Homo sapiens: one gene and its partner. The protein of the gene in region 1 interacts with the protein of each later gene in a pairwise test. Each region holds a gene or a part of one and is shown in the gene's direction. Other genes may lie near its edges.

Evidence for each region. The genes of interacting proteins can lie anywhere in the genome.
Region 2: the proteins of FERMT3 (region 1) and ANKRD29 interact in binary tests that used the Homo sapiens proteins (3 or more experiments, as listed by UniProt).

Annotation. Positions count from the first base shown.
Region 1 is NC_000011.10:64,209,693-64,216,734, forward strand, and holds part of FERMT3 (fermitin family homolog 3 short isoform), read left to right. Parts: intron 1-918; coding exon 919-1,152; intron 1,153-1,359; coding exon 1,360-1,479; intron 1,480-1,582; coding exon 1,583-1,751; intron 1,752-1,952; coding exon 1,953-2,055; intron 2,056-7,042. UniProt on the Homo sapiens protein: Plays a central role in cell adhesion in hematopoietic cells. Acts by activating the integrin beta-1-3 (ITGB1, ITGB2 and ITGB3). Required for integrin-mediated platelet adhesion and leukocyte adhesion to endothelial cells.
Region 2 is NC_000018.10:23,598,426-23,603,953, reverse strand, and holds the end of ANKRD29 (ankyrin repeat domain-containing protein 29), read left to right. Parts: intron 1-2,644; coding exon 2,645-2,728; 3' UTR 2,729-5,028; downstream 5,029-5,528.

The DNA of each region.
Region 1 (7,042 bases):
GCATGTGCAGCAGTGGGGTTGGGGGCTGGCTGAGGTGGGTGGGATGCAGTGGGAATCAGAAAACTCACCGGGAGGACCTGGGAGGAACTCAGGAAACAGGGCTTTGCAAACTCTCAAGGGCTGTGTGCCCAGAGCAGCTTTCCGGCAGCCTTTTTCCTATGCTCTCTCCCACCTGTTCATGCTCCTGGAGGGAGGAGGCGGGGAGACCTGTGCCTTCCATTACTGTAACTCCAGTTCCCAGCTGGCTGACAAGGGACAGACGCACATCTCTAATTCAATGCTCACTCATGGATCGTCATGTGCGTGCACAAGTTTGCTGCAAACCCTGCAGCTACCACATGGGAGGCCTTGTTCCGTGTCCCAGTTTGTAAGATCGTTATTGTATCTTACAGGGAAACTGAGGCCCAGTGAGGTTAAGTGGCTTGTCCAAGGTCACACAGCTAATAGCTAAAAATATTGAGTGCTCACTGCTCCAGGCCAGGCACAGGTCCAGGCCCTGAGGACATACAACGGTGAGACAGACGTAGTCTCTGCCTCCAGGAGCTCCCCAGAATGCAAGACAGAGGCTGTTAAACCGTGGATTATGGGAGGACAGAGGGGGCGTCATGTGGAGGGAGCCCAGTGGGCTGGAATGCAAGAGATGGGGCGCTAAGATTGGGGCACTCAGATGCTGGGTTGGAGAGCTCCCCTGGGAAGCGATATAGAAGCCAAGCCTAGAAGGCCAAATCAGGGGCTGCCTGCAGAGAGCCCTGCTGCTGTTACCATGGGGTAGACCCCAGGCCCGCCCAGGCTGCCCCACTCTTGGCTTAGGCAGGGCAGGGGAGTGGTCGCCCCAGGCTTCTGAATCCTGGGGTTGTGCTGGGTGTTGGGGGCACCAGGGAGGAAGGTTGGACCCAGATGTGCCCCCGTGCCCCACAGATCGCAAGCAGGACTGGTCAGACCATGCTATTTGGTGGGAACAGAAGAGGCAGTGGCTGCTGCAGACCCACTGGACACTGGACAAGTACGGGATCCTGGCCGACGCACGCCTCTTCTTTGGGCCCCAGCACCGGCCCGTCATCCTTCGGTTGCCCAACCGCCGCGCACTGCGCCTCCGTGCCAGCTTCTCCCAGCCCCTCTTCCAGGCTGTGGCTGCCATCTGCCGCCTCCTCAGTAAGTTGCCCGGCTGATTCCCCTGGCCCACGAGGGTGATGCAAAGAGGCAGGTTCCCCCGTTTCCAGGCCCAGCTCTGTTGACGCTGTCCTTGCTGTCTGGGTTGCCACCCTGCCTGCAGGGCTGTGACCCGCCCCAAGCACCCATGGGTGAGGTGGGGAGGCTGCAGCAGGACCTAGTCCCCGCTGAGACCCTAGCTCCCCTCAGGCATCCGGCACCCCGAGGAGCTGTCCCTGCTCCGGGCTCCTGAGAAGAAGGAGAAGAAGAAGAAAGAGAAGGAGCCAGAGGAAGAGCTCTATGACTTGAGCAAGGTTGTCTTGGCTGGGGGTGAGTGCAAGTGGGGGTGGGCCTGGGGGGTTGGGGGCAGGGGCCGGCCCGTGAGTCCCAGCCCTGGGGGACAGGCCTGGTTGACTCCCAACCTGCACTCCAGGCGTGGCACCTGCACTGTTCCGGGGGATGCCAGCTCACTTCTCGGACAGCGCCCAGACTGAGGCCTGCTACCACATGCTGAGCCGGCCCCAGCCGCCACCCGACCCCCTCCTGCTCCAGCGTCTGCCACGGCCCAGCTCCCTGTCAGACAAGACCCAGCTCCACAGCAGGTGCACCCAGGAGCCACGCCCCCTGTGTCAGGGCTCCCCCACCCAGGATCCACCCCCTGTCCCGTGTCTGTGCCCACCCCAGATCCACACTTCGTTTCCAGGCCTTTTCTCTGTGTGTGCTTGTCCCCCCAGCCCAGCCCCCCTCCCCACCCCACGGCCGTACCTGGCGCAGCCCTGACTGCTGCTTCTGCCGCGGCCCAGGTGGCTGGACTCGTCGCGGTGTCTCATGCAGCAGGGCATCAAGGCCGGGGACGCACTCTGGCTGCGCTTCAAGTACTACAGCTTCTTCGATTTGGATCCCAAGGTGGGTCGGGGCAGGGAGAAAGCGGGCCTCAGGTCCATGAGATGTGGAGACCTAGGGCCTGGGGTATGGGCTCTGGGATGTTAGTGACTTGTAGTGGCCTGTCCGTCTGCCCGTTTGTCCATCCACACCTTTGTTTACTGACCCCACAAACACCCACTGAAACTCATCTACTCACCTCAGCATCAGGCCAGGTCCTGGGCCCCGGGCAGATGCTGAAGCGGATGAAGACCAGTAAGTCTCAGTGCCTGTTTCCCAGGGAGCTGTCAGGGAGGAAGCTAAGACCCACAGATCCTCATAGACAGTGTGTGTGTGGGTGCCCCTGAGAAGTCTGGGGCTCAGGTGGGAGAGGCCCAAGCCTGGGAGCTCTGGGAAGGCTTCCTGGAGGGGGCACCATTAGGGACTGCAGGACCTGGGGGTGGGTGAGGAAGGAAGCTTTGCAGGGTGGCCCCTCTGTGCCCTGTTCACTCTTCCTCCCTTCCTCCATTGGCAACCAACATGCTCCAGGCAAAATGCTCCATGCAATGTGCTTCGCGCACATCTCAAAAACTTCCCAGAAGTCCACAGGTTGCTCTTTCTACCTGTAGGCCCCACCTCTCTGCCCCCTTTCTCTGCAAAACATCGTAGTTGTCTGAACGCTTGCTCCGCAGAATCCCACTTCTTGCTTCCAAGCTTTCTCTGGGTGCTGTTCGACTCCCTCTCACTCCTTGGCCATGGCTATTCTATATATTTTGACACCATCCACACGTGAGAAGTGCACCTGCTGAGGTGGCCACGTCTCCAGGCTATCTGTTCCCTGGCCATGTCCCACCCGCTTCTTACTTGACCACTTACTTGCAGCATAGACACCACCCCGACCACTCCTCCAGAATATCTTCCTCCTGAAGCCTCCTGTACACTTGCTTGGGGGGTGGCCTCTCCCCAAGCCACTCTGCCAGGCTCTGTGATGTTCCCTCCTCCTCTCCATGGCCTCTCGGTGTTGGTGAGCCCCAGGCTCTGCCCCAGGCTCTGCTCTGGGCCTCTGCTCTCTCCTCTCCTTCTCTCAGTCATCTCCAGTCTTGTGGATTTCAATACCATCTCCACACTCTCTCCCAGCTGATCATCTCCAGCTCAGATGTCTCTCTCCTAAGCTTTATTTATTTATATATTTATTTATTTTTATTTTTTGAGACACAGTCTTGCTCTGTTGTCCAGACTGGAGGGCAGTAGTGTTATCCCGGCTAACTGCAGCCTGGACCTCCCAGGGTCATGTGATCCTTAAGCCTCAGCTCCCCAAGTAGCTGGGACGATAGGCGTGTACTATACCTGGCTAATTTTTTTTTTTTTTTTGACATGGAGTCTTGCTCTGTTGCCCAAGCTAGAGTGCAGTGGTGCAATCTCGGCTCACTGCAACCTCTTCCTCCTGGGTTCAAGCAATTCTCCTGGGATTACAGGTGTGGGCCTGGCTAATTTTTGTATTTTTTTAGTAGAGATGGAGTTTCACCATATTGGTCAGGCTGGTCTCGAACTCCTGACCTCAGGTGATCCACCTGCCTCAGCCTCCCAAAGTGCTGGGGTTATAGGAGTGTATTTTTTTAGTAGAGATGGAGTTTCACCATATTGGTCAGGCTGGTCTCGAACTCCTGACCTCAGGTGATCCACCCGCCTCAGCCTCCCAAATTGCTGGGGTAATAGGAGTGTATTTTTTTAGTAGAGATGGAGTTTCACCATATTGGTCAGGCTGGTCTCGAACTCCTGACCTCAGGTGATCCACCCGCCTCAGCCTCCCAAAGTGCTGGGGTTATAGGAGCGAGCCACTGCGCCTGGCCTAATTTTTTTTTTTTTTTTTTTGAGATGGAGTCTTGCTCTTGTTGCCCAGGCTGGAGTGCAATGACGTGATCTCAGGTCATCACAACCTCCGCCTCCTGGGTTCAAGCAGTTCTCCTGCCTCAGCCTCCCGAGTAGCTGGGATTACAGGCGTTGAGCCACCATGCCCAGCTAATTTTGTATTTTTAGTAGAGATGGACGGGGTTTCTCCATGTTGGTCAGACTGGTCTCGAACTCCTGACCTCAGGTGATTTGCCCACTTTGGCCTCCCAAAGTGCTGGGATTACAGGCGTGAGCCACGGCGTCGGGCCAGCTGTGCCTTTTTATTCTAGTGTTTTCTTCTCTATGACATATTTCCACTTCTTTGTTTTGCCATTTCACACATTATCTATTGACTTTGTAAGAAGGTTTCACTGTCTTACATTCTCTTCCCTGCCCACACAATACACACATTTCCTTGCCTCTTTCTAAGTGAGTAGTGTCTGTAGTCTTTGGTTAAAACAATGTGATATGGCTGTAAATAGTAACACATATAAATAGTGTTCCTAGTTAAGCCACAGAGTAACTATGATTATTTTTTCCCTTTTTGCTCAAATGGTTTTGAAGTTCATAATTGCCTTTTTTTTTTTTTTTTTTGAGATGAGTTTTGCTCTTGTTGCCCAGGCTGGAGTACAATGGCACAATCTCAGCTCACTGCAACCTCCACCTCGCGGATTCAAGCGATCTCCTGCTTCAGCCTCCCAAGTAGCTGGGACTGCAGGCACGCGCCACCATGCCCAGCTAACTGTATTTATTTATCTATTTTTGTTGTTGAGATGGAGTCTCGCTCTTGTTGCCCAGGCTAGAGTGCAATGGTGTGATCTTGGCTCACTGCAACCTCCGCCTCCCGGATTCAAGCGATTCTCCTGCCTCAGCCTCCCTAGTAGCTGGGATTACAGGCGCCCACCACCACGCCTGGCTAATTTTTTGTATTTTTAGTAGAGATGGGGTTTCACCATGTTGGTCAGGCTGGTCTCAAACTCCTGCCCTCAGGCGATCCACCTGCCTCAACCTCCCAATATGCTGGGATTACAGGCGTGAGCCACCATGCCTGGCCTACACTTTTCTTTCTTATTTTTCGGTTCTTTTTCTTTCTGTGTCCTACTCTCCGGAGACCTCTTCAACTTATCTTCTAAAATATCTATTGAATTTTTAATTTCTGTAACTATATTTTTAAGTTCCAAGAGCTCTTGTTTTTTGAGTGTTCTTTTATAGGGTTTTTTTTTTTTTGAGAGGGAGTTTCATTCTTGTTGCCCAGGCTGGAGTGCAATGGCGTGATCTCGGCCCACTGCAACCTCTGCCTCCTGGGTTCACGCGATTCTCCTGCCTCAGCCTCCCACATAGCTGGGATTACAGATGCCCACCGCCACCATGCCCAGCTAATTTCTTCTTGTATTTTGAGTAGAGATGGGATTTCACCATGTTGGCCAAGCTGGTCTCGAACTCCTGACCTCAGGTGATCCACCTGCCTTGGCCTCCCAAAGTGCTGGGATTACAGGCATGAGCCACCACGCCCGGCTCAGCTTATTTTTAACAAATGTGTATGGTTGTGCAACCATCACCACAATCCAGTTTTAGAACATTTCCACTGCCCCAGACAAGCACTGATTGCACGATGCCCATTTGCAGTCATTCCTCCTCCCACACCCCGACCACCACTGATCTGCTTTCCATGTGGCTTTAATTTACATTTCCCTGATGACTAATAAAGTTGAGTCCCTTTTCATAAGGCTATTAGCCATCTGGATATCCTGCTTTGTGAGGTTTCTGTTCAAACATTTTGACAATTGTCATATTGAGTCGTTTGTCTTTTTCTTATTGATTTGTAGGAGTTCTTTATATATTCTGGATATGAGCACTTTGCCAGATAAATACATTGTGAATATATTTTCCCCCTCTGTGCTTTGCCTTTTAATTGTCTGAATGGTTTCTTTTCATAAACAGCAGCTCTTTATTTTAATAGAACCAAATTTATATTTTTATCTTTCTTTTTTTATTTTTAGAGATGGGGTCTCGCTCTGTCACCCAGACTAGAGTGCAGTGGTGCGATCATAGCTCACTGCAACCTTGAACTCCTGGGCTCAAGCAATCTTCCTGCCTTAGCTTCCTGAGTGGCTGGGGCTACAGGCATGTGCCACAAGCCTGGCTAATTCTTTAAAAATTGTTTAGAGATGGAGTTTTGCTACGTTGCCCAGATTGGGTCTCAAGTTATCCTCCCGCTTCGGCTTCCTGAGAAGTTGGGATTTTTTTTTTTTTTTTAGACGGAGTCTCACTCTGTCACACTCAGGCTGGAGTGCAGTGGTACGATCTCGGCTTACTGCAACCTCCGCCTCCCGGGTTCAAGAGATTCCCCTGCCTCAGCCTCCTGAGTAGCTGGGATTATAGGCATCTGCCACCACACCCAACTAATTTTTGTATTTTTAGTAAAGACAGGATTTCACTATGTTGGTCAGGCTGGTCTCACACTCCTGACCTCAAATGATCCGCCCGCCTCGGCCTCCCAAAGTGCTAGGATTACACGCGTGAGCCACTGCGCCCAGTTACATTCCTTTAAAAAAAGAATATTCTGGTCTTGATTTATGAGTGCAGTGCTTTAGCTCTGTAAGGATTTTTTTTTTTTTTTTTGAGATGGAGTCTTCTTCTGTCACCCAGGCTGGAGTGCAATGGCAAGATCTCGGCTCACTGCAACCTCTGCCCCCCTGGTTCAAGCCATTCTCCTGCCTCAGCCTTCCGAGCAGCTGGGATTACAGGCATGCACCACCACGCCTGGCCTAATTATTTTTGTATTTTTAGTAGAGACGGGGTTTCACCACATTGGCCAGGCTGGTCTCAAACTCCTGACCTCGTGATCTGCCCGCTTCAGCCTCCCAAAGTGCTGGGATTACAGGCGTGAGCCACCGGGCCCAGCCTCTATAAGGATTTTTTCGCCGGGCGCGGTGGCTCACGCCTGTAATCCCAGCACTTTGGGAGGCCAAGGAGGGCGGACCATGAGGTCAGGAGATCGAGACCATCCTGGCTAACACGGTGAAACCCTGTCTCTACTAAAAATACAAAAAATTAGCCGGGCGTGGTGGTGGGCGCCTGTAGTCCCAGCTACTTGGGAGGCTGAGGCAAGAGAATGGCGTGAACCTGGGAGGCGGAGCTT
Region 2 (5,528 bases), on another chromosome or scaffold:
GGAGAATCACTTGAACTCGGGAGGTAGAGGTTGCAGTGAGCCGAGATGGCACCACTGCACTCCAGCCTGGGCAACAGAGTGAGACTCCGTCTTAAAAAAAAAAAAAAGAAGTAAACATGGCAGATTAGCATCCAAGATGGAGTTGCATTAGCCTCCACAGTCCCTGTGCAGTTGTTTGAATTGCAAAGTGAACCTGCCACTTTTTTCATAGATCACTATTTTTACTTGAAAGAACAAGGTATCTACCACTATGACCTTAACAGCTTCCCAAAACTTAAAGGCTTTTCTGATGGATCAGTTTTTTTGTTTGTTTGTTTGTGAGATGGAGTCTCTCTCACTATCACTCAGGCTGGAGTGCAGTGGCGTGATCTCAGCTCACTGCAACCTCCGCCTCCCAGGTTCAAGGGATTCTCCTGCCTCAGCCTCCTGAGTAGCTGGGATTACAGGCATGTGCCACCACGCCCAGCTAATTTTTGTATTTTTAGTGGAGACAGGTTTTTGCCATATTGGCCAGGCTGGTCTTAAACTTGTGACCTCAGGTGATCCACTTGCCTTGGCCTCCCAAAGTGCTGGGATTACAGGCGTGAGCCACCACGCCCAGCCAGAATGTGAGTTTTTGATATTGCACAATGAAATGTGCCAACATTCTACAAACTCAGTGAACTGATATTTTCCAAATGAGCAGTGCATGTTACAAACCATGCATAGGTAAAAGATCCAACTATAAATAGATAAACCTGTGGGTTTTAAAGTTCATTGGTATGGTTTCAAATCCCACATTGCATTTAACCTTTAAGAAACTACCATTTGTTGAGTATTGATGTGGCATCAGAGAATAATATCCACAGCAATCCAAAAAGACTGTTAAAATACTCCTTCCTTTTCCAGCTACATATCTGTGTGAAGCTTAATTTTCTTTATATCCTTCTACCAAAACAGCATATCACAATAGACAGGATACAGATGGAGATATGAGAATCCAATTGTATTCTGTTAAGCTACACATGAAAGAAATATGTAAAGCTGTTGAGCAGTGCTACTCTTCTGAGAATTTTTACTTGTTTTTGAAAATTTAATTTTTCATAACTATATTAACTTGGATTTATTATTTTTAGTGAATTAATAAATATATTTTTAAAATTTTCTCAGTTTTAATTTCTTTTTTTTTTCTTTTTGAAAATATTTTCTTTCTAAATAATAGAGATGAGGTTTCACTATGTTGCCCAGGCTGGTCTCCAACTCCTGAGCTCAAGTGGTCCTCTCACCTCAGCCTCTCAAAGTGCTAGCATTACAGGTGTGAGCCACTGCGCATAGCCCTCAGCTTTCATTTTTAATAAGTTAAAAACAAAATTTGTTAGACTCTTCAGTAATTTTTGAGAGTATAAAGGGTCCTGAAACCAACAGGTTTGAGAGCCACTTCCACATCACACCTGTTGTCAATGGTAGGGACTGGTTCACTAGATGCCTAATGGATGTATCTCAGCAGCAATGTGAAAAGAAAGGCCTTCGAGTGATACTGAGTAAGGTGGAAGGTGTTAGCCACCAATGCTCTTCTTTCCCGGGTGTCTCTTATGCTCTGGAGGTTTCCTATCTCTGCCTTCTCATCAAAAGATATCTGGCCCGGGCGCGGTGGCTCACACCTGTAATCCCAGCACCTTGGGAGGCGGAGGCGGGCGGATCACTTGAGGTCAGGAGTTCAAGACCAGCCTGGCTAAATGGCGAAACCCCATCTCTACTAAAAATACAAAATTCAGCCGAGCATGGTGGCACATGCCTGTAGTCCCAGCCACTCGGGAGGCTGAGGCAGGAGAATTGCTTGAACCCAGGAGGCAGAGATTGCAGTGAGCCGAGGTCACACCACTGCACTCCAGCCTGGGTGACAAAGTGAGACTCCATCTCAAAAAACAAAAAAAAAGACACCTGTGCTGAGTCCTGACTCAGTCCCAAGTCCTTAGTGGGCAGACTACCTCATGTCATACATTAATAAATATAAGGTAGGCTGGGCACGGTGGCTGATGCCTGTAATCCCAACACTTTGGAAGCTGAGGCAGAAGGATCACTTAAACCGAGGAGTTCAAGACCAGCTGGGGCAACATGGCAAACCCCATCTCTGGAAATTAGCCGAGCATAGTGGTGCACATCTGTGGTCCCAGCTACTCGGGAGGCTGAGGTGGGAGGATCATTTGAGCTGGGGAGGTCAACGCTGCAGTGAGCCATGATTGCAACACTGCACTCCAGCCTGGGTGACAGAGCAAGACCCTGTCTCAAAAAATAATAATAATAAAATACATATAAGGTATAACATTTAATTTGACCGGTACTTATTGAGCACATTTTAGACATGCTGGGCATTGTGCTGGAGATAAGGATACAATGATTAATTAGATCTGGACCCTTCCCCCTAAGAGATTACAGTCTAGTAAGGGATCTGGCTGGAAAATGTCTCTAAGAATGAGATAAGGATATAACAAGTAATATTTATACATTTAAAGAAGATTTGTAATACCTTTATATAAAAGAGTGAGTCCAGTGTGGATTTTTTTCATTAGTGAAGGAGAAAGAGTGGGTCAAATGCCCCTCTTTGGAGTCCCTAAAACCACACCAGCTATGGGGATTCACTAATGCCCATCTTCTCTTCTTTCAGGCCAATGAACTTCCGGCAGAACTAACCAAAAATGAACGTATATTGCGTCTCCTGAGAAGTAAAGAAGGTCCCAGAAAGAGCTAACTTAGCTCCATATTTGACAGAAAGATAGAAAGCTTAACCACATTGTCCAAAAAGAAATTGCATTTCAAGCAGTGTTGGAAATTCTTTTATGAAAAAAAAAGATGCCCAGAATGCCCATCCTGTGGGTCCCTGACAAAGAAGAGCTACGCTCTGTGCACGAAGTCAAGAACCAAACAGCTCAGGGACCCTCTTGCCCCTTCACCATGGACTTCTCATGGTGTCCTGTAACTCATCTCCCGGGGGGCCTGGCATGTTCACAGATTCCACAGAAACTCATTTTCAACAATGCTAACTTGGACCTGTCAGTTAAACTCTAAGGTGGACAGGGTTCTCAGTACTAAGCAAGGAGACAGAATGCTTTGTTCCTTTAAAAGACTGAAAAGCTGACCTTCAATGGATTGAGGCACTTTTGCTTTTGTGTTAAATGTAGATGTGCTAAAATATATAGATCTATCATATTTTACCTACATATGTATGTCATTCCAGTATAAAACATTCTCCTCTACCCAAGAACCATAGCCATGATTGTTATAAATCAATGAAGTGTAAACATACATTATTAAAAAACCACTTCTGACATTCCATTATGTGCTATTCAAAGATGGACTATTGAACTATAGAAAAGACAGACTGTGCATTTGTTCGTTGATCCTCATCTTATTCCTGACATGTAAAAATCAATTTTACGTAGAGTCAACATTGTAGGTAGGTTAAAATACCAGTGGCAAATTTGGAAATTCAGAAACTTATAAACCACGAGAAATATATAGGCTTGTCTCTTTGGTCTTTTATTTTGGCTCTATTGTTGGGAATCTATTTCCTATTCTATAAGTAAGTATACCTAACATGCTGTGGAATCTTGAGTTTCCAACACCGTGCTGCTTGATAGAATGACTTTGAGGTCCTTGGATAAAATGTGATATATGCAAGTACAGTATGTTGCTATTACTATTGCAGGAATATAAATAATAAAAGACTGTTATTAGCACTTAGTAAGTCTTCATCTATGCATGTTTTTGAGTTGACTGATTCCAAGAATGAAATATGAGGTTTATTGAATTATTCCTTTGAAAGGGATCAAAACTTATATTCAATGCACTTTATAATTAATGGTGTCTAAATGCCTCAGTCAGTGCCTAACTGCACATACAAAAATAAAACCTTCTTTCTGTAATCTACCAAAATAAACGCAATGGTATTTCTGCTATTTAAACACATCTTTAGCTTATTTCTTCATGTTCTGCTCTGGTTTTCAGTCAGTGTCTATGTAAAGACACTTTTAGAGGAAAATGTTGTAATCCCAAAAGAATTTTTGTTTAACCAACTTTCAGAGTTACTAAAAGGATTATCTTTAATTCAGTAAATAATAGAATATAATCTTCAAAATTAGAAGATATTCTCTTAAAATTTATAACAATTAATGCAACAAAAATCAGCATATTTTGATAAATGTCTCAAGCAAATGAGCAACTCACAGGCCCCACAGGTGCCTACAGCCTGACCAGCTATACAAAAAGCCTGCAACCTGATTCTAGGATAAAATATTAGAAAGCTCTCTGTTGCTAAAACATCCAGATATAAACATTTTGGTGGCTAAAATCAATGCCATTTCCTCATTGACATTCTTTTATTCAGCAAATTTGTACAAATATACATTTTCTCCTGTGCGAATTTCAAAAAGCTATATTCATTTTGAAGAGGAAAATAATATGGCATTAAATGCTTTGTATTTTCCCCTTAGTTAGCCCTTATGGCAAAAATAGTTGCTAATCACTGATACAAAGCAAAACGTTATGGGTACTGATAACAAAGTTCCAAAAGCCAAAATGGGATGAATCACAAACTTACTGTTTTTCACTAAAACATGTAATTGGCCTATTACATCAATAGTTTTAAGTGGGTAATGTTCTTGAACAATATTAGAGCCATAAAATTGAAGCCAGTAGCTTGAACAATATGGAGGCCTTCTTACTGTAGGGAAGAGGTGTCTAGCTTAGAAGGATCACATTTGATCTAGATGAGATTACCCATAGCAGGGAAAATGAATCATCACCTACCAAAGACTGTACGGAAAGGTGTGTTATTTTCAAAATTGCATTTTAGTTTGCACACATGTAAATGATTATTCTATGTTAATCTAATTGACAATTCAGTTAGCTCCGCATCCTAAGACTTAAAACTAGCAATTCCTATGCAAATCATCTGCTTAACTGAACTACAAACGTTTTTCATTAATTCATTCTTTGATGACATATTCCATGTTATATAATAATTCAAAATAAAGTTAATATACTACCCCATTTGCCTTTGCTGCTTTTTTCTTTTTGTTTTTAATCAAGAGTTATTGCTATGTGATTTTTAGTAGCATGGAATTTTAGGGTGAATAATTCAACTCTGTAAATATATTGATATTTGGGACCCTAAATAGATATTTAAACTTTATTTTAGTAATGGACCTATGATTTCATTATCTCTGCTGTAGAGAATGAAATGATTCCAAAAAGTTTTCATTCAGAAAAGAATTCTTGGGACAGTTATTTAAGATGCTGAAAATAGAAAATTTTCTGATTTGTATTATTTATGATGCTCCTGGCCCTTTAGTCCTTTGCAATAACTTTCTCTTGTGAAGTAGCTGGTGGTTTTGCAGAACTGTTGGTGTAGGAGACAATAATTTGCAGCAGTAACATCAGGAATATGGAGATTTACAGGAACATCCTGGCTTCCATCTGCTCCATCCACCCTCTGCCGCCACAAGAAAGCTACGTCTCTTCATAAATCCCACACTGAGACACCTACTCAG